Linked DNA regions of Homo sapiens: regions 2, 3, 4, 5, 6 and 7 are each linked to region 1. Evidence: fine-mapped expression QTL. A gene starts in region 1. Each other region holds a variant in brackets. All regions are shown on one strand. Distances are between the middles of the regions.

Region 1 (4,000 bases):
GCCCAAAAGAGGTTTGGACCTAGTGCTCACAGCGCAGAGGAGGAAAGTTGCAATTTCAGGTGAGAAAACAGCAAAGACTTCTTGGGAGAGGTGGTAGCTTATGTGTCACAGCCTTAATCCTCACTGTGTTTGGGCAGGTTCCTGATTGTGGGAATGCAAGAATGGATGTTGGGCATGATTCACCATCCTCCCCCACCATGTGGGCCAACTCCATGATCTCTGTGACTCACAGGGAATTGGACTTCTGATCTCTTCCTTGACCCTGTGACTTCCCAAACTGCCTTGTGCATGTCCAGGCTTTGGGGCAGGTAACTGAAGTCTTTGGCCTATGAGGTGAGAGGTCACTTGGGTGACCTGGGAGTAAATCCCTTCCCCTCCCTGGCTCTGTAAAGCCAAGTGTTAAATGAGAGACTTATATTCCAGGCAAAGGCTTTGTGCAAATGCCCATCTAAGCCATGCCCTCTGCAAGGAATCCCCTTTCTTAGTGATGATGGTGGGGAGGTGGGGAGGGTGCAGTGCAACTCCCATTCCTGATCTCCTATCACCAGAGCAGAAGAATCACTGGAGAACGACTCTGTCTGAAGCTTGTTCAGCCTGGCTTCCTTGAGCAAGCAACTTATTCACAGGTAAGTCCAAATTAATACAGCGCACACCGGCTACATAAATATTGTGCTTTGATTGTCTTCTGTAATCAAAGGCAAGGCTGCTGAGTTTGTTACTTTCCCCACCATGCAACTGCTGGAGGAGAACTCTGGGGGAAGGGAACTGAGGTTGCCCAGGTGGTTTTTGTTGCATGTGTCTAACTGCAAGTTGTGTCTCTGTCTATCGAGGGGAGGATAAGGCCCATTACATTCAGATTCAATAAGAATTTATCAAATGCCTATTTTGTGAGAGGCATTGAAAGACACAGTATCTTATTTCATTTTTAATTGAATTAGTAATGACTTGATAAGGCACAAAGGTTAGTCTAACTAACATTTTTTTTTTCCCTGACATACGAGTGATCCCTACACTATTGGCTGTGTCCACTTTATTGATTGTGAAACAGCCTAAATGCATGGAATTGGAAACTGGAAGTCATTCTACACAATACAAGAAAGCAGCACCATCTTTCCATGTACCTGCCAGTGCTATGGCTGGCTTGGCTTTTCCAGCAGTTTTCTGGACTTGGTTGAGGTGGCTTCCTAGGGGCATTTTCTCACCCCCTCCCAGCTAAGACTGCTGTTAATTTTGAATAATTTGGAGGATGCTCTACCCTTTGGGGTAGCAGAGTTTTGCAACCCACAGATCCCTTTTGCCTTGAGGAATGGTGGTGATGGTGGGTGTCAGAGATTCTGTCTGTATAAGTCCCCGGGAAAGCTCAGCTGTCGCCTGACCCGAGGGTCGTGCAGTTTCCTTAACCCTGACTTTAAGTCAGCCCTCTTTAACCCCGACTCCCAAGCTGGGCTGTCCTTTGAAAGAAAAACGAAACCGCCCAGTTCTGAGCGTCGGAAAATGGGCACTCGCTCCCTGGGGGTTTGGGGCAACTTCCCCGCTACGTCGCCCAGGGATTTTAAATAATTGCCAGCCACCAGAAACCCCCTAACCCTTAATTCTTCCCTCCGAGACCCAGCCCGCTGCTTGCCACTTCCCTCTCCAAACGCTGGCGGGGGTGGGTGGCAGCACCGAGGCGATTTTCTTCGTCTTTTTTTCCTCCGGGTTTTGTCATGGAAACGCTGACACAACCTCCAGACGGCGGCCGAGCCCGGCCGGGGACTGAGGGCTTTTGGGACCCTGCGGGAGCGCGGCGCGCACACCGCACTCCCCGGGCAACAGCTGGACGCGACCATATCCCGGGTAGGGGCGGGGGGAGCGCGACGCTCCGCCCCGGCGCTAGGGTCCCTCCCTCCTCCCGGCTCTCCGCAGGCGCCCTCCCCTCGCCGGGGGCCGCGAGTTGCATTTGGTAAAACCCAGCCCCGGAATATATAGATCGTTGGAGCGCAATGAAGTAGCCTTTGGAGAGAAGGGAGAGGGCCCGTCGGACAGCCACAGCGGCCAGCGCAGCGGCAGCGGCGGCGGCACCACCATCACCGCTCGCACCCCAGCCGCCCGGCCCGCGACCAGGCAGCGGCGGCCGCCGGCGGGATCGGAGGAGGCGGCGGAGCGGCGAGGAGGAGGAGCAGGAGCGCGCAGCCAGCGGGTCCACGCATCTCAGCACTTCCAGACCAACTCCGGCACCTTCCACACCCCTGCCCGGGCTGGGGGCTCCGAGAGCGGCCGCGAAGCGACTCCGATCCTCCCTCTGAGCCTTGCTCAGCTCTGCCCCGCGCCTCCCGGGCTCCGGTCCGCGCGGCGGGGTCCCTGCTCCTGCGCCCCGGGCGCGCTTCCCGGACACCCCGGTCCCCGCAGCCAGGACAAAGCCATGAAGCCAGCGCTGCTGGAAGTGATGAGGATGAACAGAATCTGCCGGATGGTGCTGGCCACTTGCTTGGGATCCTTTATCCTGGTCATCTTCTATTTCCAAAGTATGTTGCACCCAGGTAGGGGGCGCGTTAGCGTGGTTTTGTTGGATATTTTCTTCTCTCTCGCGCTCTAGCTCGCTCCGCCTGATTTCTGCCTCTTCCAACCCTACCTCTCCGCCTTCGGCCTCTTCGGGGCTCCTGGCTGCCCAGAGCTCCTGGCTGCCCAGATCTACCCGGGTCACCGCGTCGGGATGGGGAGGAGAAGGGAAGGTGTGCTTCGCCCTCTTCTTCCTACCGGCTCCGGGCTGGAGGATGGGACCAGGAGGGGCGGTAGTTTTTTTTTTTTTTTTTTTCTTCTTCTTTTTTTCTTTGTGTCCCTTGTCTGTCTGTCTGCGAGGTAGCAGGGAAACGGAGAGGTGTGGGAAGCAACCGGGGGTGAGGGGCTGGTTTGAGGAGAACGAAACTCCCTCCCTGCTGCTGCCGAGGTCGGAGGATGAAAGAGTTACCCGGAGCCGGCTGCTCTGCGCCCGGGCGAGCCGCCTCTTCCTGGTTGCCGGGCCGGGGGCGAAGGGTGTACGCCCCGGCGAGGTTGCGAGTCCCTGCAGCAGGCTGGGAGCCCGGGACTGGGCTCCCACGTGTCCCGGGCTCCGCGCAGAGCTGAGCAGGTGTGGAGAGTGGTCGGGTGCCCAGCGTTGCCCCTCCACCACGCGCCGGCCGTTTGCCCCCGGGGTCCGGCTCCGCAGTGACCTTGCGGCTGGTGCCCCGGGGCCTGCTCCAGCCCCCAGCCCTGAGCTGGAAACTCCGAGCTCCTGGGTCACGCCTTGACCACTGCAGTTTTGGAGGAAACTTTGGCCAGGTCCTGGGCTGACCGTCCGTTTGCATCCCCCACTTCTGGGATCCGAGCAACGGGAATCCCCCGGGCGGCGTGGGAATGAACCCCATTCCTCCGGTCCCTTGTGGCTCAGGCAAAGTTCCACGTCCGAAATCTGGACTGGGGGAGGGACGAGGCTCGTCGCTTCCTAGGGGTGCGAGGGAAAGTTTGGGTTCTGGAGAGGGAGGGGCGCCCTCGAGCGCGGCGGCCGGGGGTGAGCAGCTCGGCTGCGAAGCCCAACAGGTAGAACGTTCCGAGAAGCCTTCCGGGTAACGCGGGTCTCCCCGCCAAGCCGTGGCTCCCCTGCTCCCTTTTACCCTCCCTTAGCAGCCCCCTGCCGGGCCACGTTGGCTCAGAAATCCATTTTCTACGCCTCCGAGTTGCCTTTCTCAGCGTAGTCACAGCAATAATTTGCTTTTCTAATTGCAAGGAGGAGGGAGGTGGAAACGCATTTCCTTCCAGGGAAGTGGGGTTGGTGTTTTTCATTTTTGCCTCCCGCCTTCTCCTTTCACTGTGTATCTAACACTTTAAACAGACGCAGTCCCGAATTCATCAAGCCTGCGTTTGGGTCGATGGCAGAGGAATAAAGCTGTTCTTTCCATCAAACAGGCAGGGCTGCAGGCTGCAGATTCCTTGACAGCGCAGGGACAGACGGCCCCTTTGCCCCACTCGGTCTGGAGCAGTTGTT
Region 2 (4,077 bases), 25 kb after region 1:
CTTTTGCTTAAATCTCACTTAGCTCCAGCCATTTATGTCTGTGGGGGAGGCTGGGAAAGGTAGTCTTCATTCCGTGTGGTCATGTGCTAAACTTGTGTTTTCTTTATTCTAAAGGAAGACAGAGAATGGATATTGGGGGTCAACCAGGAGTTCTGCTGCAAAAGGTTCTATACTTTAGTTGGTCAGTGCTCTGAGCCCCTGTTGAATTCAGGCCTATCTTTCATAAACATCTGCTTAGTCAGTGCACTGAGTTGATAGTGTCCCCGCCCCCCCCTCCAAATTCATGTTCTTCCTGGAACCTCAGAATGTGACTTGACTTGGAAATAGGGGCATTGCAAATATAGTTAGTTAAGATGAAGTCAACCAGGTGCAGTGGCTCCCACCTGTAATCCCAGCACTTTGGGAGGCTGAGGTGGGTGGATCACGAGGTCAGGAGTTTGAGACCAGCCTGGCCAAGATGGTGAAACCCCGTCTCTACTAAAAAATACAAAAAATTAGCTGGGCATGGTGGCGGGTGCCTGTAATCCCAGCTACTCAGGAGGCTGAGGCAGGAGAATTGCTTAAACCTGGGAGGCGGAGGTTGCAGTGAGCTGAGATCGTGCCACTGCACCCCAGCCTGGGCTACAGAGCAAGATTCCATCTCAAAAAAAAAAAAAAAAAAAAGATGAAGTCATATTAGAGGACAGTGTGCCCTTAATCCAATATGACTAGCGTCCTTATTATAAGAGGAGAAGAGACACAGAAACACACATAAGACCGTGTGATAATGGAGGCAGAGACTGGATTGATGCTGCCATGAGCCAAGGAATGCCAGGAGCCACCAGAAGCTGGAAGAAACAAGAAAGGATCCTTCTCTAGAGGCCTCAGAGAGGGCATGGATGGGCCTGCCAACATCTTGATTTTGGACTTGTGGTCTCCAGAACCATGAAGGAATACATTTCTATTGTATTAAGCCACCAAGTTTGTGGCACTTTGTTATAGCAGTCCTGGGAAAATACTGCAGTCTGAAGGAACACATTTCTTGCCTTGACCCAGTAGGGATTCTTTCCAGTTGGAGTCAGGGGATGTGGCTTCTTAGCTTCACCCCTGTGCCGGGATGTGACTCAGCAGAGGTCACTTAACCTCTCTGTGCCGTACTTTCCAGCTATGAAATGGGAAGAGAGCTGCCTTTCTGCTCTGCTGTAACACTGCAAAGGTACAGCCTTTCATGACTTCTCATTGCACCCAGAAGAGAAACCCAAATCCTTAGCCTGACTTCAAGGTCCCGCCTCACTGAGGCCTGCCTGGTCCCACTTCCTTGTTCCCCTGCCCAGCTGGACTTGCGCCACTCTGCCTTCTTTCAGTGCCTTATGAGCACCACACTCTTGCCACGTCACGAATTTTGCACTTGCCGTTCCCTGTGCTTGGCGTGCTTTTCCTTCAGGTCCCGTTTAATGTTGCTTCCTCGTATTGGCCTTCCCAGTTGGGTGCGCTGGAATAAGTTATCACTTAAAAAAAGTAATCTACTGTCATACTTTACAATTTTTAGAATTTGGCCCAGCTTTTTAAGCCACTGAAAGAAATGGTTTCAAAAACCAAACCTGGGTGCAGTCACCTGAGCCCACTGTTCCAGCTGGTGGCTTCCTTCTGTAGGGAGCGGTCATGGATTCTCTCACGCGTCGATGGGGGGCAACGATATCAGATATGGCAAAGATTGGCTAAGAAAGGGAAGGCATTTTTGGAGAGGGCTTTGGGGTTTCTGATACCTAAATGTCTCATCCAAGTGAACAGAGTATTTACTCGTCTATGACTTGAAAAAAGAATATCTTTTTGATGTTATTGTAAATAGGACTGTTTCCTTCCTTCTTTCCTTCCTTCCTTCCTTCCTTCCTCTCTCCCTCCCTCCGTCCCTCTTTTCCTTCCTTTCTCTTGCATTTTTTTTTTTTGGAGTTTTGTTCTTGTTGCCCAGGCTGGAGTGCAATGGTATGATCTTGGCTCACTGCAGCCTCCACCTCCCATGTTCAAGCAATTCTCCTGCCTCAGCCTCCCGAGTAGCTGGGATTACAGGAACCCGCCACAATGCCTGGCTAATTTTATTGTATATATATATATTTTTTAGTAGAGACAGGGTTTCACCATGTTGGCCAGGCTGGTTTCAAACTCCTGACCTCAAGCGATCCACCCACCTCAGCCTCCCCAGGATTGTTTTCTTGATTTTATTTTTGGATAGATTGTTGCTGATATAAAGAATGTATGGCTCTTTTTTTTTTTCCTATTCCTCACTACCTTCTGCCTTCCTTT[C/T]GCCTTCCCCCATCCCTTCTCTTTGCTGAAGACGGTGTGTCATCTGGGGTAACCCTGGGTATTTACGAGCCAGTGGAGGCTGCTCTGCCACCTGGGGCTGCTGGGCCCCAGAGCCACATCAAACAGGGAGCCCCCCCCCGCAAAAATGAAAGGAGGCCATGTCAAATGGGCAGCTGGTGTTTACTTCTTTTAAGTTTAGGCACATCCTTTACATCCACATGGCTTTATTTTTTAGGCAAGTGGGCTCACCACTTTCCTAGACCATGTGGCCACTGCCTCCCTTCCCTTTCCCCACCCTCAGTGTCATTTTGGCTTTTCCCACAGAGGAAAGGCTCACAGAACTCCAACGTGGTTCTGCTTGCTTAGATCGATGAGACAAGATTTTGGTCCTTTGAGCAAGGTAGGAGTTGTTGTAATAAGAGCTGACAATTATGGAGGACCTAGTGTGTGCCCGGAGCTTCACACACATTGCCTCAAATTCTCACAACGGCCTCATAAGGTACATGTTACCTGGACAAAGACAGCAGCTCAGAGAACTCATTCCACTTACCCAAGGTTGCAGATTTCAACTCGGTCCCAACTCACTCCAGAGTCTGTGCATCCCCCCACTTAAGACTTTAATGTCTTAAAAATGTCCCCACTTCTTCTGTCTTTTAGTGGCTTCACGTCTGAAGTCTCTGCTTACTTTTTGGAACAGATGGTGGTTCTCATAGACTTGGCCCGGAGTCAGCATGGGAGAAAGTCATCCTGTCTGAAACAGTGCTGATTCGGGTCACCACAGATTCAAGGTTTCTAACCTTGGCTCTACTTAAGAACAACTTGGACATCCTTTCATGTAGTTCATTGATACCCACATGCCTCCTGGTGCAATATCTCCAAAACTGGACTCCTGCATCTTCACATGCTCACCCTTCACACCCCATCCATTCTCCACACCCTTCACATCCCAGTTCCTGAAGGCAGGTCCCTTGGTTACAGTCTCTCCCCATGCATTTGGTTGTTTTTTGTTGAGATGGAGTCTTGCTCTGTCGCCCAGACTGGAGTGCAGTGACGTGATCTCAGCTCACTGCAACCTCTGCTTCCTGGGTTCAAGAGATTCTTCTGCCTCAGCCTCTCGAGTAGCTGGGATTACAGGTGCCAGCCACCATGCCCGGCTAATTTTTGTATTTTTAGTAGAGACAGGATTTTGCCATGTTGGCCAAGCTGGTCTTGAACTCCTGACCTCAGGTGATCGGCCTGCCTCGGCCTCTCAAAGTGCTGGGATTACAGGCGTGAGCCACCGTGCCCGGCCTCCCCATGCACTTTGACTTTTTTTCATTGCACTCCATTTGTCCATGCAGCAATCCCTCAGGATGTGATTCATTCAGCCTGCCAATTTTGGATAATAAGAGAAGAGAGTTCAGATACAAACTCCCCAATGTTACCTGCATCTCTTTGGTTCCTGCTTTTGGAGAGTAAGGGGTACCTGAGTTTGTTTTATGTCTCTTCTTCAGTATTCTGCTCCACAAGCTCCACGTGTACTTATTCCTCAGTACGCCCCCTTAGTGAGTTTGTTTATTGGGTGAGTGAAAGGAACAGATGAGTAGATGAATGACCCAGGTGAGGCCTGGGGTCGGGGAGGACTGTGGCTCTTCTTACCTGCTGTTGAAGCTGGCCTGGTGGAGGAGGCTGGAGGCAAAGGTGGGGACGTAGTCTCTGTAGCTTCTGCAAGTAGAGGGTCTGCTGCTGGGGTCAGGGAGGATCTGAACCTGGGCCTGCTTGACTCTACAGTCTGTTTGTTTCTACTACTGTCTGCGA
Region 3 (4,077 bases), 300 kb after region 1:
ATTTCTGCTAGAAATAAGTAGGTTGCTATTGCACTTAGAGTCATCTTTGCAAGGGACTCATTCCAAACCAATTCCAATCGACCTGAAAGTCCCTTGCACTAAAGAAATGTGATTTTTTTTTAACCCAAGGAGAAAGTTGGTTGTAACAATTTTTCACCAGAATTAGCAATCTGATAGAATAGGCTTTTTTAACAGGAATTTTAAACTGGCGGTGCCAGTTGCAGTGAAGGTGAAGTGGCTATTGCTTTATATTCGACAAATATTTATTGAGCATCTACTATATACTAGGCCCTGAAGATAGAGCGTTGAACAAACCCAATAGTCTTGGCCCTCAAAAAGCTTTATGTGACATAGAGCATCCAGCTCGACAATTAGCAAACCCCTGATATTATTCATGGACTTGACATGAGGTTTGGACTATTCATGAGCAACAGCAGAAGGTCCATGACCCCTACAAATTTACATTTTTCTATGGCCCATATTTGAAAACCTCACATTCGGAGCAGGCCACTTTATATTCGTGAGTGATCCCAAGCTCACTGACCAACAGAAAAGATGCTAAAAAAATGTGTCCTATCATGTGCCTGCTCCAACTGATGGGTAATGTCTGCCTTTAAGCCCCAGAATGGATTCTCCAGGCACAGTGTGGAAGAGTGCTGTGGTTGATTAGCAATGTCTGCCTTGGGTGAGGAAAGGGGAACACTCCTCAAGTGCCTCCTACTGTCATCTCCATTCAGCCTAGCACCACATCCCCATGTAGAAGTGTTGTCTTCTACTGCTTGCCACGTACAAGTGTGAAATGCCAAGGTGAGACTCGTACACTTGGGGATTTGCAATGGTTTTTACCCCTCATGAAGGTCAGAGGTGGACTATTTGTACACATACACACATGCACACCCTCTCACGTCCTCCAGAGGCTGAAAGACTATCAGCATCTTGGTAACTGCCATGCATGAGCAGCAAGGACAGCCTTCCATAATCCATGCCCCATTTCCTCTGGAAGCCTGGAAACTTTTCATTTCCTGTTCCTTGCTAATTAACATCTAAACATGCTTCTCATTTCCAGCCATTGCTGATGCTTCTCAGTTGAAGTTTGAGCCACATCCCTCTTACAGCTAGTGAATGAGTTGGTAGCAGCTACTGTATATAATAATAATAATAGTTTTAATAATAGGGGAGGGTGGGATGGGGTGTGGGTAAGTTTTGCCTTTTGTTTTGTTTTTGATGCCGTATATAGTGAAGGGGTGAGGATATTCTAAACAAACAAAAATTGAATAATTTATTCACAGAAACTATTAAGATTGTATTGTAAAGCTCACAGCAAGCTCAGTGGGCAGCAGCTGCAACATCTCACCGGGGAAATTATTTTATTTAACGTGAGTGAGATGTGGGCCGGAGAAGGTAGCTGAAGCTATTTATAAAACGTTGTGTACCTTCTTCCGAGCTCTCTCCCCTTTGTGAAGGGCGCAGCAACTATACCCTTGATGGATGGAGATTTACGCAATGTGTTTTACTGGGTAGAGTGACAGACCTTGGCTGTCCCTGGAATTGAGAATCTGGACCTTATTTCCAGGCAGAGAACACTGTCCTCAGAAATGGGACTTCTGATAATGAAACAGGTTGTCCAACATTTTCTAATACGCATTCTACAGAACACAGGTTCCAGGAGGCATCAGGTTGGTGTGATGCAGACTAAGGGTTTTGTGGTCAAATATCCTTAAGAAACAAAGTTAAGTCAGTTTCCTTTCTGCAAGGACTTTTCAGCCTTCAATGTGTGCTGTGCATGGTGAATCCCCAAAAATAATCCTTGAGTCTGTAGCATTTCCTGAACTTACATGACCAGGATACTCTATTTTGCAGATCACCCCACAGAGCTAGGGTTCCACCGAGTATACTTTGCTTAGGTTGACTTAGCATATCTGAGGTCTTCAAGGATAAAAACTGCCACCCCAACACCCTTCCATTAAAAAAAAAATACAAAATAGCACCACAGTCTCCATCTGGTTTATAGCAACAGAGGTACTTTATTTAATGAAGCAATGGTTCTAATCCTGGATACTGCCACGGACTACAATTC[T/C]ATCCCTCCCAGAGGGAGTGGAGGAAGTCTTGGGTGGTGTGGACAGAAGGAAGAGAGGAGAGGGTGAGTGGGGTATAGGGCCCAGGGTGGCTCCCTACTCCTCAGGCTCAAAAGGATGCTCAGTGGGAACAGATGATCTCTTGATGAGTGCTTCTTCAGTTTCATAGTTTGGAATCGTTCACTGTGTGCTTTTTGGGGGGTTTTCAATGGAAATTCACGTTGCTTTGCATTTCTGTGTCCGTCTTTGGTCAGTTGTGCAAGCCTGCTCACTGTCATGTGAAGATGGCCTTTCATCTGGCTTCTCTCTCTTAAGTGAGAAAGATTGTCCTTCAGGGGACATGACATCAATAGGTTTCTGGAATGAGGGACTCTTTCTCCCCGTGTTTTGCTTTGTGTTCACATTTTCTTTTCTAATGGCATTGAAACTTTAAAAAAAATGGATTCAACTGTTTTTGCAGAATGTAGAAAGTATTCTGTGTCCTTGGTTAAAGAAATCCACTTGTGAAGTGTGCCTGGAAAATGAAAGTTTGTGTTTTTTAAAGAGGAATATTTGAAACTGCTTTCTATGCATGCTTAGCTGGAGAAAAGTACAGGCAGGCGTCCCATCTCCCAGCCACTTCTCAAAGGTGCTGCTGTGTTTTAAAGACCAGGTACAGCCAGGGCAGTATTTGCAAGGACATTCCTGCTTACTTTATCCCTTTGGTTGGAAAGCTCTAGATGATTCCCGCAGCTCCTCCAGACCCCGCCTCCCTGCCCTCCCCAGCTGGTCTGGGAAGAGGTGGTCTGCTGACCTGTGGTATCTCAGAGGGGACGTTCCTCCTCCTCCCTGTGCACCAGGTGGGCTGCACCCTCCTGCCTATTCAGGATGTGGATGCCACAGGAGAGCAGCAGGCAGTGGAAACTTCAGTTGCACTGGTTCTCCTGGTGGCAAAGGCATGAAGCACAGGGGTCGATTAATCCAGGCTACTAGAAAGCTCCAGAGCAAAGTGTGCGGGTCCCACAAATGCTTGGCTGGTGGGGTCTGGATCAGTGCTGAGATAGAGTTGGCAGAAGAAGCAGAGGCACTCTGCTTGCTTTCCTAGCCAGTCCTCCCCTACACACACACACACACACACACACACACACACACACAATCTCAGCTGCGCCATTCTGTGCAATCCCAGTGACCAAATCCCTTCCTTGCCCACCTCTATGTCAGCAGGACTGACCACATCACTCCCCCGAGTTCCCACCACCAGCATTTCCTCCAACCTTTTTCCATCACAACCAGTTAGAACCCTACAGGCAACAAGGCCTTCTAGAATCCGCTTAACCCTTGGCTGATAACAGGCAAATTTCAGTCTGCTACACTTTGTTAGGTCCAGAAGGAGCTGCCCATACTACTTTCTTATGAGCATGCTCAGTATGGCATATGGACATGTAATGTCACATCTTTGTGGAGTGTGATTTTCTTTTTTCACATATTTGTATGCAGTAGAGAGCCTGTTGTAGAAAACGCTCCCTGTATCTTGCTGTACTGTTAAAGAAAGCTGAATTCCACATTGCCAACAAAAGCGTGAAAATGTTCATGAACCTTCCTCCAGGAAAAGCCATTCAAGCCTGATTATTTTTCTAAGTAACTTCAATTAAATTGAAGAAAAAAGAAGCTGCTTTCTGTGTATGGTTTGCTCATGGCTCATTAACAAAAGACTGTAGGGGTGGGGTGGGCCGTGGACCTTAGCATGCGGGGGGCCCTGCTCATGTGTATCAAAGGATGGAGATGCAGGCTTCGTTGGAAGACTCAGCCCTGGTAAAAACCGCCATAGATCCAAATTCTTTCTGTTCATCGGGTGAATGGAAGCTTTTCTTCTTTCCATTTTTTCTATAAAGTCTTTGTAGACTAATGCATTAGAAGGTGCACTGTGATCACACAGTTCCACCACTCGTGTGAAAAGGCATGAAGGCTGTCAGTAAATGGCTTTGGTGGCAGAGCCAGTATTCAAGCCCAGGTTGATGTGCCT
Region 4 (4,077 bases), 310 kb after region 1:
AAAGGAACATTCTAGCAAGGCTGATATGAGAAAAACAACCACCTTTTCCCTATTTCACAATCTTCACCAGCACCCGCCTCTTCCCCAAATTGTAAGAACCCACAGGTGGAGAAAACAGCCAGAGGTTGTGAGTGGAGGCAGCCTGCTGGTTCCAAATGCGTTGCTGGCTGAGAACCATTCCCAAACAAACTCCCGTAGTCACTTCCTCTTTGAAATAGGGAAAACAATAATATCTGGATTGTGCCACGACTGAAAACCCTTTCCTAGCTGCAGTTCATCCACCAAGGAGCTGTCTGCAACCTACAGGTAATTACTTCCTATGCAGGGAGGGGACTTACATTTCCTCATCTGCGGAACAAAAGAATTGAGCTATATCTGTGGTTTTCAATGCGGTTTTTAAAAATGAGCCTCTTAAAAATTTTTGCATTCTGAACACTCATATGTAAAACAGATGAGGCAGAGATGCTGTGATTGAATGGTTTGAGGCCCAGCTCTGCCTTTTTCCCATAAAGTCCCTGTAAACCATCACGGGCCATAGGGTTCTAAGGAAAACAGTTTGAGAAGCAGTAAGTTACGTGACCTCTGAGCCTTTCCTGTTTGACTAATGATCTACCTGAATCCTCCTCTGTGGCTTCTGCTGCTTTATGCCTAAGAGATTGACCAGTTAGATGGTACCACGCAGGTAAAAACTGCTTTGAGAAGGGAGTTAAGGGGATGGCGTTAGACAGAGATTAAGATGCAACAATAGAAATTATTTAAAAAAAAAAAACGTAAAAGCTGATGCAGCAAAGAAATAGCTCATAGCTAGATTCAAGATGGGAACCGAAATTTACACTCCTCTTTCCAAATGCTCTACCATGGAAACACAGGCTCCACCTTTGTACAAAACCCTATTAATTTGAAATACAAGAGACTGGAATGAAAAACAGTCTCTGTATTAATCTGCTTTTTATTTTTCCATGGTTTTGTTTTGTTTTTCTTTTTTGTTTCGTTTTGTTTTTTTGAGATGGAGTCTCACTCTATCACCCAGGCTGGAGTGCAGTGGCGCAATCTTGGCTCACTGCAAGCTCCACCTCTCAGGTTCCCGCCATTCTCCTGCCTCAGCCTCCCGAGTAGCTGGGACTACAGGTGCCTGCCACCATGCCTGGCTAATTTTTCTTTTTTTTTTTTTTAGTAGAGACGGGGTTTCACCATGTTAGCCAGGATAGTCTCGATCTCCTGACCTCGTGATCCTCCCGCCTTGGCCTCCCAAAGTGCTGGCATTATAGGCATGAGCCACCACACCCGGCTCCAAGTTTGTTTTTAAAAATAATAGAGCATCTCATTATGGGAGAAGAGTAAGGGCTTTGGATTTCACGTTGGTTTGGACAAGCCAGCAGCAGCTAGAGAAGATTATTTTGTGGCTAGGACCAGCCTTGGGCTTTATCTGATAGATCAAGCCAGAAACAACTTTGTGCCCGGAACCAAACTGGCAAAAGGATAGAGAAAAAAAATGCCTAAAGAAGAGATGAAGGAAGAAGGAACTCTGACTATAGAAATTATACCTTTATGCTGAGCTTCTTTGCACAGTGAACACAAACTCAACTGTGGGTGCCTTGGAAATGTTTGCTTTTAATGTGCTCTTTTCCAAATTCTATCTTTTCATAGGGAAAGCTGACCATAAAGGTAGCTAACTTTTATTAACTATTAGTTTATTATATGCCACACAGTGTGTTACATGCTTTCAATTTAATCCTCACAAACAACAAACAAGGTAGATACTGGGACCCTTTTTACAGATTGATATGGTTTGGCTGTGTCCCCACCCAAATATCATCTTGAATTGTAGCTCCCATAATTCCCACATGTTGTGGGAGGGACCTGGTGGGAGATCACTGAATCACGGGGGCAGTTTCCCACATACCGTTCTCATGTTAGTGAATAAGTCTCACGAGATCTGATGGTTTTTAGGAAGTTTCCCCTTTCACATGGCTCTCATTCTCTCTTGCCTGCCACCATGTAAGATGTCCCTTTGCCCAT[A/G]ATTGTGAGGCCTCCCCAGCCATGTAGAACTGGGTCCATCAAACCTCTTTCCTTTATAAATTACCCAGTCTTGGGTATGTCTTTATTAGCAGCATGAGAATGGACTAATATACACATAAAGATGCAGAAAATTAGAATAAATAACTTGCCTCAAGTTACCCAGAATTCAGATCCAGGTCTGGTTGACTCTCCAGCCCACTAAAATTGGGCGTTATTGGTGGACCAAGAGTGGAGGAGGCCAGAAGTCTAAACCTGGAAGCCAATGGTGCTACAAAGAGACATGGATAGAGATGAAAACTTTAGCCCAGTTGGCAAAAGCTTGGAAAACCTACTGGACTGATGAACATCAAATTTGGACAAACTGTTTAGAAAGCTTGGACTTCCAATAAAAGCCAATGAATGGCAAAGTGAAATTCAAATCAGGGTCTCAGAGGGAGCTGTGAGACTGCTGAATGGAAAGAACAAGCCATAAGTATTCTGATGCTCTAACAGAACAAGCCAGCCTAAGGTTCCAACATAGCCCCAAATCAAGTTCCAAGGGCAGCCATTCAGGGTAAAGGTTGTGTTCAAGCAGCTGTACACACAGCAACACTGCCATGCAATGCACTTGGGCAAGCAGCAGTGGGACTGGAGTCATTTGGCCCAAATGAAGGACATTTCCAAGCAGAACAGAAAGGCAGACAAAAATAGGGTAAGAGAAAGAGACTCCATGGCAGGTGGGAGTGTCTTAGGGCACCTTTGGATGTCTCTTCTACAGAGTTCCCTCTGCGTGGTAGCACCCTGCACACAGCCCTAGGCCTTACTCTGTAAGCTGAGAGCTCTGAGCTTCCCCAACTTCCCCTCCTCCATCTCAGCCCCAGGGACCTGCAGCTGTCAAGAGATACATTCATTCCTTCATCTGTGCAAACATATATTAAGCATCTGCCTATGTCAGCCCCTGTGCAAGATGCCAAGAATATGCGAATTCTTAAGATTCATAAGTGGACAACATAGAAATGTTAACGGGTAGTTATGGGATAGTTGACACATGCATGAAGACAAAACACCAAATTCCCCTTGGGAAAGAAGTGATGCAAGTCAGTAGCTAGAGAGATGGAGAAAAGTTGAGGGTTTGGAACAGTGGCTCCCAACCAGGAATGATTTTGCCTTCCTATGGATAGATCCCCACAACAAAAACTTGCTCAGTTCACAATGTCAGTAATGCTGAGACTGGAAAGCCCTACATTGGAGAAATATTAATTTGGGATAGAACCTATGTCTTTTAGTAACTGAATGGAAATGTAGGTGAGGAAGAGGGAAATAAGAAGGGAAGGAGGATTGCCACGAATTGAGTTTGAGCAACCATAGCTGGATAGTGGGGCCATTATTGGAGATCAGTTAATTAGGAGCAGAAACAGGTTTTGGGGAAGGCTCTCAGTTAACTATGAGACATGCTGAATTAAGGTTCAGGTAAAACATCCAGGAGAAGTTGGAGTGGTTCTAGAGCCTTACTACTCAAAGTGTGATTTGTAGACCAGCAACATGGAAATTACCTGGGAGCTTGCTAGAAACCCAGTGTTTCAGGCCCCACACCAGCCTTCCTGCATTTTAGCAATCTCCCCAGGTGATTCACATGCTTCACATTTGAGAAGCCCCTGTCTAAGCACAAGAGAGAGCCTGAGGAGAAGCTGTGGCTTTGGGAGATGGGGTCATGTTTCATTACTGTTTACTCTTCCAGCAACCCTGAGATGTGTATGATCAGGTCCACTGTGTCTGGTTGTGCAGGCTGTGCACTGCACAAAGGTAGGCCCAAGATGGGGTTGACATTTGTCATTTACTCTGAAGGACTGGATGCCTTTTTCTTACCCCACTTGCCAAGTTATGGGCCCAAAAGCTGTACCCACCCAGAAAATGAATTGTCAAATTTGCACAAAAGCTCTGTGACTTAGCAGTGGCCCAAATATAATGATTTCACATCCCTTTATCTGCAGTTCTGAAATCCACAAAACTCTGAAAACGAAATGTTTTTTCATAGATTTGCAGCAAGCTCACTTGGCAGAGAAACCTGACCTTAGCTAG
Region 5 (4,077 bases), 230 kb after region 1:
CAGGGATTCAAATACTCATTAAATGTGTGACCTCAGGCAAGTCTCTCAGCCTAGTTGAGCTCCATTTCCATCACCTAGATGAACACTTGCCTGTAGGACTACTGTGAGGATTATATGTTTAATGTATGTGGGGTGCTTGGCACATAATAGCACTTAATAAATGCTATTAGGGACTATTCTTGTTATGGTTGAGCCGGTGAAGAATTTTGTGTGAGAGATTGTGTCTGGACTTTCATTTGGAGCAAGTTAGGTCAAAATAACAGCTCCTGGCACTGCTGGTGCTGAACATGTGTTCTCTGCCTATTCCCTTGCTGAGACATGAATTATTAATATTTTATGCCATTTATTCCTGTGCTATTTGGGGACTTCTCTGGCAGACTCTGGTGTTTTCTGATGGTTCCAGAAATTCGTGCAAAACATTTCTATAGGCTGGGCACAGTGGCTTACACCAATAATCACAACACTTTAGGAGTTCAAAGTGGGAGGACCACTTGAGGCCAGGAGTTTGAGACCAGCCTAGGCAGCCTTAGTGAGACCCTCATCTCTACGAAAACATTTTTAAAAAATTAGCTGGGCATGGTGGTGCATACCCGTAGTCCTAGCTACTCAGAAGCCTGAGGCAGGAGAATCGCTGGAGCCCGAGTTTGGAGGCTATAGTGAACTATGGTCCCACCACTGCACTTCAACGTGATCACAAAGGGAGAACTCACCTCTTAAAAAAAAAAAAAAAAAGACAACATAGTGATTCATAGGGTTGACCTGACTTTTCCTAGGAGTCTAATGGACAGCTGCTTAGCCGCTGATCCAGCGCTTGGCTGACTGATTCCAGGTGCCAGAATGTGGGACAGCTGTGCTCTGAGAGAGAGTCCTCTGCTCACTCAGGTGCAGAAGACAGTAAAGACTAGAAAGTTGGTTGATGATTGCTGGAATAAAGGATGAGAAACTTGAATCTGGTACTAGGCCCACACAAATTCAGTTACTATGTGTCACTTCCTGTTGGCTATTTATTTAAAATTGTAGGACTTCTGGACAAGATTTGCAACTGTGGCTGCTACTGTATCAAAAGTTACAAAGTAACTGCTAAGTAGAGCCTTTAGTTTGTTGTTGTTCTGGTTTATTTTATTTATTTGTTTTGTTTGTTTGGTTGGAGACGGAGTTTCATTCTTGTTGCCCAGGCTGGAGTGCAGTGGCGCGATCTCAGCTCACCGTAACCTCCGCCTCCCAGGCTCAAGCAATTCTCCTGCCTCAGCCTCCCAAGTAGCTGGGACTACAGGCACCCGCCACCACGCCTGGCTAATTTTTTTGTATTTAGCAGAAGCAGGGTTTCACCACGTTGGTCAGGCTGGTCTCAAACTCCTGACCTCAGGTGATCCACCCACCTCAGCCTCCCAAAGTGCTGGGATTACAGGTGTGAGCCACCACACCTGGCCATTCTTGTTTCTTTTTGTTTTGTTTTAAAATTGTATATTTTGGATCAGTTTGCATCTCTCTCTCTCTACAGGGATTGGTTTGAGCATTGTGCAGGTCCCAACTGCCAAGGCTCATGGTCCTTCTGTATAGATGCCACAAACCTACAGTTAACACAGCAACCTTTCTGGCCTTGCCAAGTGCTAAGAGTGGTTGCAATAGGGCCTAGGATTCAGAAGTTGCACTGGGCAGTCAGCAGGGCCCATGCCCCTCACCAGCTCTTCTGGAACTATTTTGTTTTTTTAGCATCCAAGTGCTTTACACCTTGTTCTCATTTGGGTGGTCAAGCCAAGGGTTGTTGACTGAATTCGTAAAAGCACCTTACACATCAGAGGCACTAAGTAAATGTGTATAAATCCTGGACAATACAGCAATAGTGATGGTTAATAACAATGGTTCTCATTTATTGAGCACTTACTATGTACCACACACCATGTGAAGCGCTTTACCTGAGTTATCTCATCTCACCGTCCAACCACTGCATTAAGTAGATGCTGCAGTAGCCCTTATTTTACAGATGAAGAAAGAGGCCAAAGAGCTTAAGAATTTGCCCATAGTCATAGCTGGGAAGCCAGAGGCAAGGATTTGATTCCAGGGTAGTCTTTAGACAAAGACCTGGGCAGTGAGGAGGTACTTCCCAAAGACCTGGGCAGTGAGGAGGTTCTGGGAAGTGAGGAGGTACTACGAGTTGAAATGAGAAGATAGATGTCAAGGCCAGTTTAGCTCAAGATTCTTTTTTAAAGAAATGGCCTTTCCTGCCTAGAATGATCCTGTTTCAAACAGCGGCCCCCGCCCCCCCCAAAATTTTTTTTTCCCTTTGCAGCTTTGGATTTTAGTAACACCAACAATATTTCCTGGAGAAATACTCCAGATGCAGTTTTCTGGTACAAGGGAAGCTGTTTTCATACCGTACCAGCATTTCACAGTTTAATG[C/A]CGTTGGGTGAGGGTGGCGGTTGTTATTCTGTGTTTCCTGCTCTCAGCCAGTGTGTGGTTCACACTTGAATTTGGCAACAGTGTGGTTGTGTTTTCTGTGCATCACTTCCCTGCATGGCATCAGATGGGCCTTCTGATTCTTAGAAAACGCAAAGATGTGGTCATTTGTGTGGCTGGAAATTGGCATCCCTGTGTGCGCGTTAAGAACGCCAGGCTGTTGCAGCAGAGGAAAACAATAGGGACCATTTTAAAATGAGATACAAGTGTTCAGGTGACTGTTGCTGTGGGATTTTAACTCTGGATGAATAGCTTGCTGTTAGGGTGGGTACTGACAGATTCCTGGAGCTCTTGTTCTGATCCTTGATCACAAATGCTTTCCGTCTAGATTGACAAGTTGAACCTTCACAGCAACCCTGTCTGGTGGGCGCCACTCCACCCATTTTATAGATGGGAAGACCGAGGCAAGGAGAAGTAACTCACCACTAGTCCCTGAGCCAGTAGGTGGTAAAATGAGATGTGGCCCCAGATAGCAAGGCTCAAGAGCCCCTGAGCCTACTGAACTATAGGGCTAGATTGACGTATTGGGAAGTCTTCTGAATAAATTGCTTCTTCCTCTCACTTGTTTTGCTAGAAACATAAATTAATGTTAAAACATCAACCTGAAACGTGTATTTAAAAACCTGTAAGATATTCTCAAGATAATCTTCAGAAATATGTGAAAAATAAAATGTTAAGGATCCTTAAGGATGTTCACACAGGTATTATTTCTAATAACAAAAAATTGGAACTAGACAGTAACCAAAATAGGGGTGTGGTTAAGTATATTCTGTCACAGCCATATAAGGAAAATGTATAGAGCCCTTAAGATGATGTTGTAGCATAAAGTTTATGGACATGGGAAGATGTCAGTTACAAGCCATTGCTACTGGGCATGGTGATGAGCCTGCAGGCCCAGCTCCTCAGGAGGTTGAGGCAGGAGGATGGCTTGAGCCCAGGAGTTCGAGACCAGCCTGGGCAAGAAGGGGCAAGAAGGAGCAAGAGGAGGAGGTGAAGGAGACAAGCTATTGTTAAATAAAAATAGTAGACTTTTTAATATAAGTATTATATGATACAATTCTTTCTATATACACACATTCGTGAAAGAACATTTCTAGGACAAATGTCAAAATATTAACAGTATTTCCTTTAGGTGTTATGGTCTATTGTGATGTTCTTCATTCTTTTGTGACTTTCTCATTTTCCTTCCAAGCTGCCTGCAATGAGTAAGGATTAGGAAAAGAAATTTTTAAGACCAAAATAAACCTTGGCCTCAGCCAGAATCCCTTCCTACCCAACCTGAAACCTCAGGGCCATAAATCGCCTGCTGCCTCCTCAGGTGGACATGCTTGCTTCCAATCGAAATACAGTGGAAGCTTTTTCCATGGCCAAGGATAGGCCCAATGGCTGTTCTATCCCATAGCAGGCAGACGCCTGAGACCCTCGTTTGTGTGTTATGCTCTGTTGAAGATGGGGCAGAACATACTTCCCAGCAGCTGTGAGGCTGAGACGAGGTGAGCAAGTCCTTTTGAATTCTCTTTCATGCATTCATTCAGCAACCTTGTATCATGCACTTACTATAATTACGTGATTAATCATTGCAACTACATTTATGTGATTCTTCTCCTTGCCAGGCACTGT
Region 6 (4,077 bases), 210 kb after region 1:
GTTTACAGGTCCCCAGATGCTGAGATTTACTGACCTCCGTGAAGGAATTGATAAATGATTTAGTTGAAATAGCAAAACTGGAGGCATTGTGTGAATTAGAAATTGTGCCACGGAGCCCACTCAGGTGCCACTAATTTATTTAATGTGATTTGGTTTGTACAGCTGTTCCTCACCACAGACAAAGGAAAAACAAACACCAACTGTTCCCCTAGAAAAATGGGGAGTGCCCCGAGGGATTGGGCCAAAGACTAGGGAGCACCCGGGAGGATCCAGCAGGCTGGCCTGTGTTGGGTCAGTGCAACAAGGCTTCCTTCCAGAGGCCTGGGCGAGCCCTGTCTAACCTACTCCATCCTCACCTCCGTGCGACTTCCATCTCGTGACGTTCTACTGAATCTGTGATTTCGCTAAGGTTGATTTCAGTGGGTTTGTTTTGTGAATACTTTTTCTTCTCTGGCATCATCAGAGATTTCTTGCAATTTTTAAACTTTTTTTTGTAGGTATGAGACAAATACTTGTTTAGTATAGAAAGTATAGAAAATAAATGCAAGTCAAATGAATAAGGTAAAAATCACCAGCAAATCCACCACCCAGAGATAATCATTGCTAACAATTTTGATAAATATCTTTCCAGACTTTTTCTCTGATATTCATGTTTGTATTTTTTAAAAAATGAATACTCCTAGCTTATATTGTTTGGTAACCTGTTTTTATTCATGTGTCATTTTTGAGCAGTTTTTCTCCATAACATTCAACTGCTTTGCTTAGACTGGTGTTCAAAGGGGGCTCATACAGACCAACCCTAATTTAAAAAAATCTTACTAGGAATGGTTTGCCCAAGTGCATTGTGCCGTTGTAGAGAGCTGTGCATTTCTGTTTGGGTCGCTTTAATGTCATTTCAAGGGCACTGACATAATAAGAATGCCCTTCCCCCTTTCTTTAGCCCATTTAAGGTACTTTATTAACAAGTTCCCAAGGGTGACTTTGTTATTCTTGTTCCCTTTCTTCCACCCATCCATCTGTTCATCCATCCATCCATCCATCCATGTATGGAGCAATTAGGCTGTGCCAGGCATTGTGTCTGCTGATAAAAACACAGATACATAATTTCAGCAGCCCCTGTCCACTAGGGTACCAGTCTCCATCCAGAACTTCCATCTGCCCTGGACATGAGATAGGGACCTCCATCTTATTTCTTCACTATGGAGTTGATTACTTCCAGCGAGCTATCTAGCAGATAATTCCTCCCTTTACAGTGGAGGCATCTCAAGGGTAGGAACTGTATATCACCTCTCTTCTATAAACCGCGAAATGCTGACTGTGCCTGTAGCCTAATACTCAGGGAGACCACGAGGTGAACTGAATTTTAGAGCTGAGGGTGAAGCGGCGGGAACATTTTTAAAAAGCTGTTTCTCAACACAACTCTTATGTATGTCATCGATCAAAGAAAAATGAGGATGCTAACAAAAATGTTCTTTGATTACTTAAGACTTTATTTTTCTAAGTGTGGTCTTCTTAGGTCTTTGAGAGACAGCAAGGCCTTTTTGTTAAGGTTTAGACACATTTTCTCTTGGTGTGTTCTAGAGAAGCACGGCTTTATGTAAAAATGTAAGATTTATTTTTGCCAGTAAAATATAACACACAGCCCAGCCCAGCAACAGCATACATCCTCACTGGATGCCAGCAACAGTCACTGTGAAATGTTACAAGTGCAAACAGCCCCAGTCCCTCCTCAGACAGAGCATGCTGCCCATGCC[G/A]GCAACAGTCACTGTAAAATGTTACAAGTGCAGACAGCCCCAGTCCCCTCCTCGGACAGAGCATGCTGCCCTTTTTCCAGGGAAGTGGGGTTATTTCTTTTTATGGTGCCATTTTGACTTCCTAAGACTACCATAGATTTATAAGGAAATAATTCCTCCAATGGGCCTAAGTGACATCCTAAAGTTTTACACGAGCCGGTTATGAAATTGCAAGAACTGTTTCATGGAAACATTTCCATGTCACCAATGTAGGCCCATTTATTAAATTTATGGAACTTGCTGTATGTGCTTTTTTAAAGATACCAAAATATATTTAATAACCTCAACCCGGAGGCAAACCTCGAGGGTTAATTACAGTAATGAATGTGGCCAACACCCGGGCTATTCAGGAAGAGAGAGTGGCTCTGTGCTCTGCCTGAGTGCCTCACCTTGTGCTAGCAGACTCAGGGGGTAACTCCATAAACTTTCATCATCCAACCTCTTCCCACTTTCACCTCTCTAGGTAATCTGGTCACTCTTGGATGAATAGCAGATGTATGAGAATAACCTTGAGATTTGGGATCGAAAGGCCTGACTCTGAGATCTGATTCTACCCCATTTATTATGTACTGTGTGGCCTTGGTTATGTCACTGTCCTACTCTGGGCTTATTTTTACATCTATAAAAGGCCAGCATACTAATAGCACTCATCTCAGGATTTGAGGGGAAACAGAACTTTGGGAGGAGCAAGGAGCAGCATGGAAGAAAAGAAGAGAGTCTAGTCTTAAAAACGTTTACAAATGTATCATAGTCCAGAAAGTCTTGTTTCAAACTGTGCCATCTGCATGGAGGTAGTTGAATGTAACAGTGACAAGTGCAAATCCTGGGGTCACGCTGCCTAGGTGTGAATCACAGCTGAATCTCTTTTTCCTCATCTGTAAACTTGGGATCATAATGACTACTCACAGGGCGGTTCTGAGTATTAACTTAGTTCATCAACCTAAAGTGCTTTGCACAGCATCGGGTACATCATGTTCAATAAATGTAAGTAGTTGTATTTCTAATTTTTAACTTTTTATGCCTATTGAAAACTTGAACACTCTGCATTTAAATTTGAAACAACATACTTGGAATTTTCTCTGGATGCCAAGCAAATGTCCATGATTTGTGGGGTGGGGGGTGGGGGTCTTTCTTTTTTCTTTCCCTTTCTCTTTCTCTCTCTCTGTCTCTTTTTTTTTTTTTTTTTTTTTTTTTTGAGACGGAATCTTGCTCTGTCACCAGGCTGGACCGCAGTGGCGCGATCTCGGCTCACTGCAACCTCTGCCTTCCAGGTTGAAGTGATTCTCCTGCCTCAGCCTCCCGAGTAGCTGGGATTACAGGTGCCCGTCACCATGCCCAGCTAATGTTTTGTATTTTAATAGAGATGGGGTTTCACCATGTTGGCCAGGATGGTCTTGATCTCCCGACCTCATGATTCGCCCGCCTCGGCCTCCCAAAGTGCTGGGATTACAGGTGTGAGCCACCGCACCCGGCCTCTTTCTCTTTTAATCTTATTTAGACTATCATGTATAGAATTAAGATTGAATACTTTATTTAAATTGCTACTAATTGCAAGTTCTGTTTGGTAGGGGTTTAGAATATGCTTAGCATTTGAAATGATCACGGGTATAGGTTTTCTGTCCCTGAAAAACACCTGAACTGTTTCCCTCAAGCTTTCCAAAACAATTCAACTTTGGATGCAAGCGAGAATGGAGAAATTTAATAAAGATTTTTATTTGTTTTCCAAAATGCAATACAGAAGATTGGGGTTATTGTGAAACGTGGGCAGGCTTTTGTAGTCCCCTTTACCTTGAATTCTGCTTTGCCAAAGCAAGATTTTATTAAGATAGGACTATCCAATTTCCTTCCGTTGTTCTTGGGACTCTGTGTTTTTGCAACTCGTTTGCCTCTGTCTGCGTGTTGAATTCTAGAGGGTGCGATGATGGAAGAATAAAATGGGATGGAATAATACCAGTGTCCTGCTGCATTGGTATTCAAATTCAGTATCCAAGGCTCCACATGCCTGAAATACAGATTTACTCTGAAATACAGTGGATGGCCAACAAATGTTTCCTGATTGAAAAAAGATGGAAGGAAAGGGAAGGGAGAGAAGGAGAAGCTAGGGAAGTCCTGTGTGGAACAGTAGAGCTGGGATCAGGTACCTCATCAGAGAGGCGGGGCAAGGTCTGATAACCCCTTTTTTCACCGTTCTACAGTACCGTGTGCGGTGGGGTCTGGAGTGAGCCAGAACAGATAAGTCGTTGCCCCTTGCCATCCCCCAAAACTATGCCCAGGGTAGCTGGCC
Region 7 (4,077 bases), 36 kb after region 1:
TCTTTGGCATAGCCTGTCATTTTGCTCACATTTCACTTCTCTCTCTCCAACTTCAGAGCCCCTGCTGTGGAACAGGTGCTGTGCTGGGTGGCAGGGGAGGTCTCTGGCTTTTTTTTTTTTGATCTCCGTCTTAACATCTAGCCTACTGGAGGAAGTGTATTTAATCATCCACTTATCTGTTAACAATTATCTCTGAGGGCCCGTCACATTCAGAGAAGATTCTAGGTTCTCTACAAGTATCCTCTCACTGTGTACATACTAAATCAACATCCTGCTGGATTTCCCCCAGACATCTCCCTTCATCACCATTGGAGAGTATCCTCTAATTGCCAGCCCTATTCACCATACTCATCTCATTTGATCTGGAGTTTTCTGAGAGTGACCGGGGGTGGGATGGACAGGATAATTTAGCAAGAGTGTATAAGTAAAATCTATATAATAAAAGTTATCTCCCTGTGCCCCCCATGATCTATTCTTTATGTAGCAGTCTGAATGAGATTTTCAGAAACAAGAACCACTTTACCTTAGTCTCTTCTTCTTCTTCTTCTTCTTTTCTTTTCTTTTTTTTTAGTATTATGGGGATCTGTTTCTGTTGCCCAGGGTGGAGTGCAGTGGTATGATCTTGGCTCACAGCAGCCTTGAACTCCCAGGCTCAAGTGGTCCTCCTGCCTCTGCTTCCCTAGTAGCTAGGACTACAGGTTTGTGCCACCACACCTGGCTAATTGAAAAAAGAAATTTTTTTTCAATAGAGACAGTGTCTTGCTATGTTCCCAGGCTAGTCTCAAACTCCTGGCCTCAAGTGATCCTCCTGTCTCATCCTCCCAAAGTGTTGGAATTACAGGTGTGAGCTACTATACTCGGCCAGTACCCTTCTCAAAACACTTCAGCACTTCCCATTGCACTTGGGTTGAAATTCCCACCACTCACTGGGGCCCACAAGACTCTTCAAGACTGAATCCTTGCTCAACATTGTGACCTGCCCCCTACCACCTGCAGCCTCACTTGCTGTGCTCCAGCCATGTGGATCTTCCTCCTGTCTCTAAAACTGCCTCAGGTCATTTGCACCTGCTGTTCTTCCCAAAGGCTGTGTGATTTCCATCAGTCAGTCTTAGCTCGTATACCTCCTTGGAGACACCTCTTCTGACCAACCAGTCCAAAGAATCTCCTCTTACCATGTCACTCTGTTTTATTTATTTATTTAGAGATGGAGTCTCGCTCTGTCACCCAGGCTGGAGTGCAGTGGCGCGATCTCTGCTCACTGCAAGCTCCACCTCCTGGGTTCATGCCGTTCTCCTGCCTCAGCCTCCTGAGTAACTGGGACTATGGGCACCCACCACTACACCCAGCTAATTTTTTGTATTTTTAGTAGAGATGGGGTTTCACTGTGTTAGCCAGGATGGTCTTGATCTCCTGACCTTGTGATCTGCCTGCCTCCACCTCCCAAAGTGTTTTATTTATTTTAAAGGCATGTATCACTCTCTGAAAATTAGCTTCTTTCTTCTTTTTCCTTGTTATCATCCATTTCCCCGAACCAGAATAGAAGTTCCTGAGGCCAGAACTTCTGTCTCTCTGCCCCTCACTATGTGTCTCTGGCACATACCCCAGTGCCTGCCTGCTCTAAAGTAAAATCTTAGTAAATATTACTGTTGACTAAATAAATGAATAAATCCCTTTTAATGCCCTTTGGAAGTT[G/A]CAAGTAAAGAATAGGATCCCTTTTTAAGATTACACTTTTGGCTATTGATCTGTGTGTCTGGAACAAGATACAGTTTGAAGATACTACCATGGGACATGACATCAGTTGAGCTGATTAAGGTTTTAGTAATAAGAATCCAGGATGTGTCCGGGTGCGGTGGCTCACGCCTGTAATCCTAGCATTTTGGGAGACCGAGGCGGGCAGATCACGAGGTCAGCAGTTTGAGACCAGCCTGACCAACATGGTGAAACCCCGTCTCTACTAAAAAATACAAAAATTAGCCGGGTATGGTGGTGTCCACCTGTAATCCTAGCTACTCAGGAGGCTGAGGCAGGAGAATTTCTTGAACCCGGGAGGCGGAGGTTGCAGTGAGCCGAGATCACACCAGTGCACTCCAGCCTGGGCAACAGAGCAAGACCCAGTCTCAGGAAAAAAAAAAAATCCAGGACGTAACTGAGGAAAATGAAGTGGAAATGAAATGCACACTTACCTATAGCTGTGTTTCCTACTGTCAGTGAGGTCAGATGTTTTTGACCAAAAAAAGATCGGAAAGTGAAATAAAACTAATGGAAATGGTGCACGATGGCTCAGTGGTTTGCAAGCAATGCAGATGGCCTCAGCCATTCACATTCAGGCAGGAGCCGCTGATCCTAGTGTTTACCTTGGAGCTGGTATCCAGTAATGTGGCAAGATGTTTATTGCTTTCTCATCAGATGATGGATGTGGAAGAGAATGTTTTTGCCCTGGAACCAGGTAGGCCTTGGGCTACTTAATTTGCTCTTTAATAGACATAGGTGTTCTTGAAGTACACCTGTCATTCCCTTAACAGAGCACCTATGAGGTGCCAGGTGCTGAGGGTTCGTTGGTGAATGAAGTACATTTTGTGGCTTCTAATCCAGTGGCTTTGGACATGTCCTGGTGAGAGGGGTGGAAATAGTGTATGCGAATGTGTGTCAAATGCCTCAGAAGTGGGAAATGGAGGGAGAGTTTGAAGGCCTGAAGGCGTTCCATCAAAGCTTCCTTCCTTGCCGTCTCTACCCTTCCCTCAACTCTGGCTCAGGCAAATGCTCAAAGTGACTCACCCTGGTAGGCACGGAAAGACAAGAGAGACTTGGATGTAGAAAGACACATTTACAGTTTGTGGAGGGCCGTCCCTTCGGACACATTTCATCAGTGGGTGTGATGCTGCCTGTGGTATCACATGTGCAGCAGCAGGGTGTTCGGTTTTGTTTTTTGAGACTGGGTCTTGCTCTGTCACCCAGGCTGAAGTGCAGTGGCACCATCTTGGCTCACTGCAGCCTCCATCTCTTGGGCTCAAGTGATCTTCCCACCCCAGCCTCCCAAGTAGCTGGGACTAAACACACACACCACCATGCCTGGGTAATCTTTTGAGATCTCACTGTATTGTCCAGGCTGGTCTTGAATTTCCGGGCTCAAGCAAGCCTTCTGCCTTGGCCTCCCAAAGTGTTGGGATTATAGTGTGAGCCACCGTGCCTGGCCTAACAAGATGTCTGTATGTGAAGCCACATTCCTGGCCCATCCACAGTCACGAGGACTTGGGACTACAGGCTGGGTGACAAAATTGAGCTGATTTCCCCAAATCTCCAAGGAGATCCCCTCTGAAGAGATGCCGTGCCGATGAGAGACAGAGCCTGCACCACGAAGCAAAGGCAGGAGCTTGTGAGCTTGTGAGCTGACCCCTCTGGCCTTGGCCTCTTAGTGTCTATAGCCCGTCACTGCCTTAAAGCCACCACATCACATGTCACTGTTCTTCAACACTGCTCTTATTTGAATGTCTCAGTGATAACATCTCAGAAATGAAAAACAGGGTCTCCACTTCTGAGGATGTGACAAGTGAGTTGGAGGCAGTTTCCCAGGGGAAGGATTTTTGTCTCAAAGCATTAAAATAGAATCCGTTCTAAGTCAGAATATTCCTTTTAAAGTTAACTTCACAAAACTTCTCTGATCTTGATCCTCTTGCTAGCAGCTGACTGCCGAGGATGGGTTCCAGCGCTTCTCAGAACAATGTCGTAGGCGTATTAGCTCTGTAAGTCACCACGAATTCAGAATAATAACTGTGGGGTGGGGTGCGGGCTCACTGATTGACTCGGAGGCATCTAGAGTTCATTTTGTAAAACACTTAAACAATTCAGGGTGTTTTGTTTTGTGGGTAGATTTTTAAAAATAATTTTAAAAATGTAAAATTGTGGTTAAAAAAGCACAATGTAAACTTTACCATTTTAATCCTTTTTAAGAGTACGGGTCAGCAGTGGTAAGTATATTCATACTGTTGTGCAACAGATCTCCAGAACTTTTTTGTTTTGCGAAACTGACATGCTGTACCCACTAAGCAAACAACAACTCCCCATTTTCTCAGACCCCCT

What was found.
Region 2: its variant is fine-mapped to the expression of CHST11 in lung (TOPMed, PIP above 0.99).
Region 3: its variant is fine-mapped to the expression of CHST11 in whole blood (TOPMed, PIP 0.96).
Region 4: its variant is fine-mapped to the expression of CHST11 in lymphoblastoid cells (GTEx, PIP 0.90).
Region 5: its variant is fine-mapped to the expression of CHST11 in whole blood (TOPMed, PIP above 0.99).
Region 6: its variant is fine-mapped to the expression of CHST11 in sigmoid colon (GTEx, PIP above 0.99).
Region 7: its variant is fine-mapped to the expression of CHST11 in pancreas (GTEx, PIP above 0.99).

What each region holds. Positions count from the first base shown.
Region 1 is chr12:104,455,011-104,459,010 of GRCh38, forward strand. It overlaps CHST11 (carbohydrate sulfotransferase 11), which reads left to right and starts at 1,938. Exons shown (of 3, transcript NM_018413.6): 1 at 1,938-2,519. The coding sequence starts at 2,402. RefSeq lists enhancers at 1,607-1,656, 1,677-1,756, 2,677-2,726 and silencers at 1,827-1,956, 2,037-2,206, 2,247-2,526, 3,117-3,256, 3,417-3,476.
Region 2 is chr12:104,479,935-104,484,011 of GRCh38, forward strand. All of the region lies in intron 1 of CHST11 (carbohydrate sulfotransferase 11), which reads left to right. Among named protein-coding and RNA genes, the nearest start is that of CHST11, 25 kb to the left of the region's middle. RefSeq lists an enhancer at 2,998-3,498. The variant C/T (reference allele first, on the strand shown) is at 2,281.
Region 3 is chr12:104,758,293-104,762,369 of GRCh38, forward strand. It overlaps CHST11 (carbohydrate sulfotransferase 11), which reads left to right. Exons shown (of 3, transcript NM_018413.6): 3 at 1-3,722. Among named protein-coding and RNA genes, the nearest start is that of MIR3922, 170 kb to the left of the region's middle. The variant T/C (reference allele first, on the strand shown) is at 2,078.
Region 4 is chr12:104,764,525-104,768,601 of GRCh38, forward strand. No RefSeq gene overlaps it. Among named protein-coding and RNA genes, the nearest start is that of MIR3922, 170 kb to the left of the region's middle. The variant A/G (reference allele first, on the strand shown) is at 2,020.
Region 5 is chr12:104,685,518-104,689,594 of GRCh38, forward strand. The region is part of intron 2 of CHST11 (carbohydrate sulfotransferase 11); the gene reads left to right. Among named protein-coding and RNA genes, the nearest start is that of MIR3922, 96 kb to the left of the region's middle. RefSeq lists a silencer at 2,426-2,621. The variant C/A (reference allele first, on the strand shown) is at 2,401.
Region 6 is chr12:104,662,851-104,666,927 of GRCh38, forward strand. All of the region lies in intron 2 of CHST11 (carbohydrate sulfotransferase 11), which reads left to right. Among named protein-coding and RNA genes, the nearest start is that of MIR3922, 73 kb to the left of the region's middle. The variant G/A (reference allele first, on the strand shown) is at 1,755.
Region 7 is chr12:104,490,914-104,494,990 of GRCh38, forward strand. The region is part of intron 1 of CHST11 (carbohydrate sulfotransferase 11); the gene reads left to right. Among named protein-coding and RNA genes, the nearest start is that of CHST11, 36 kb to the left of the region's middle. RefSeq lists a silencer at 1,095-1,298 and enhancers at 2,383-2,552, 3,175-3,364. The variant G/A (reference allele first, on the strand shown) is at 1,693.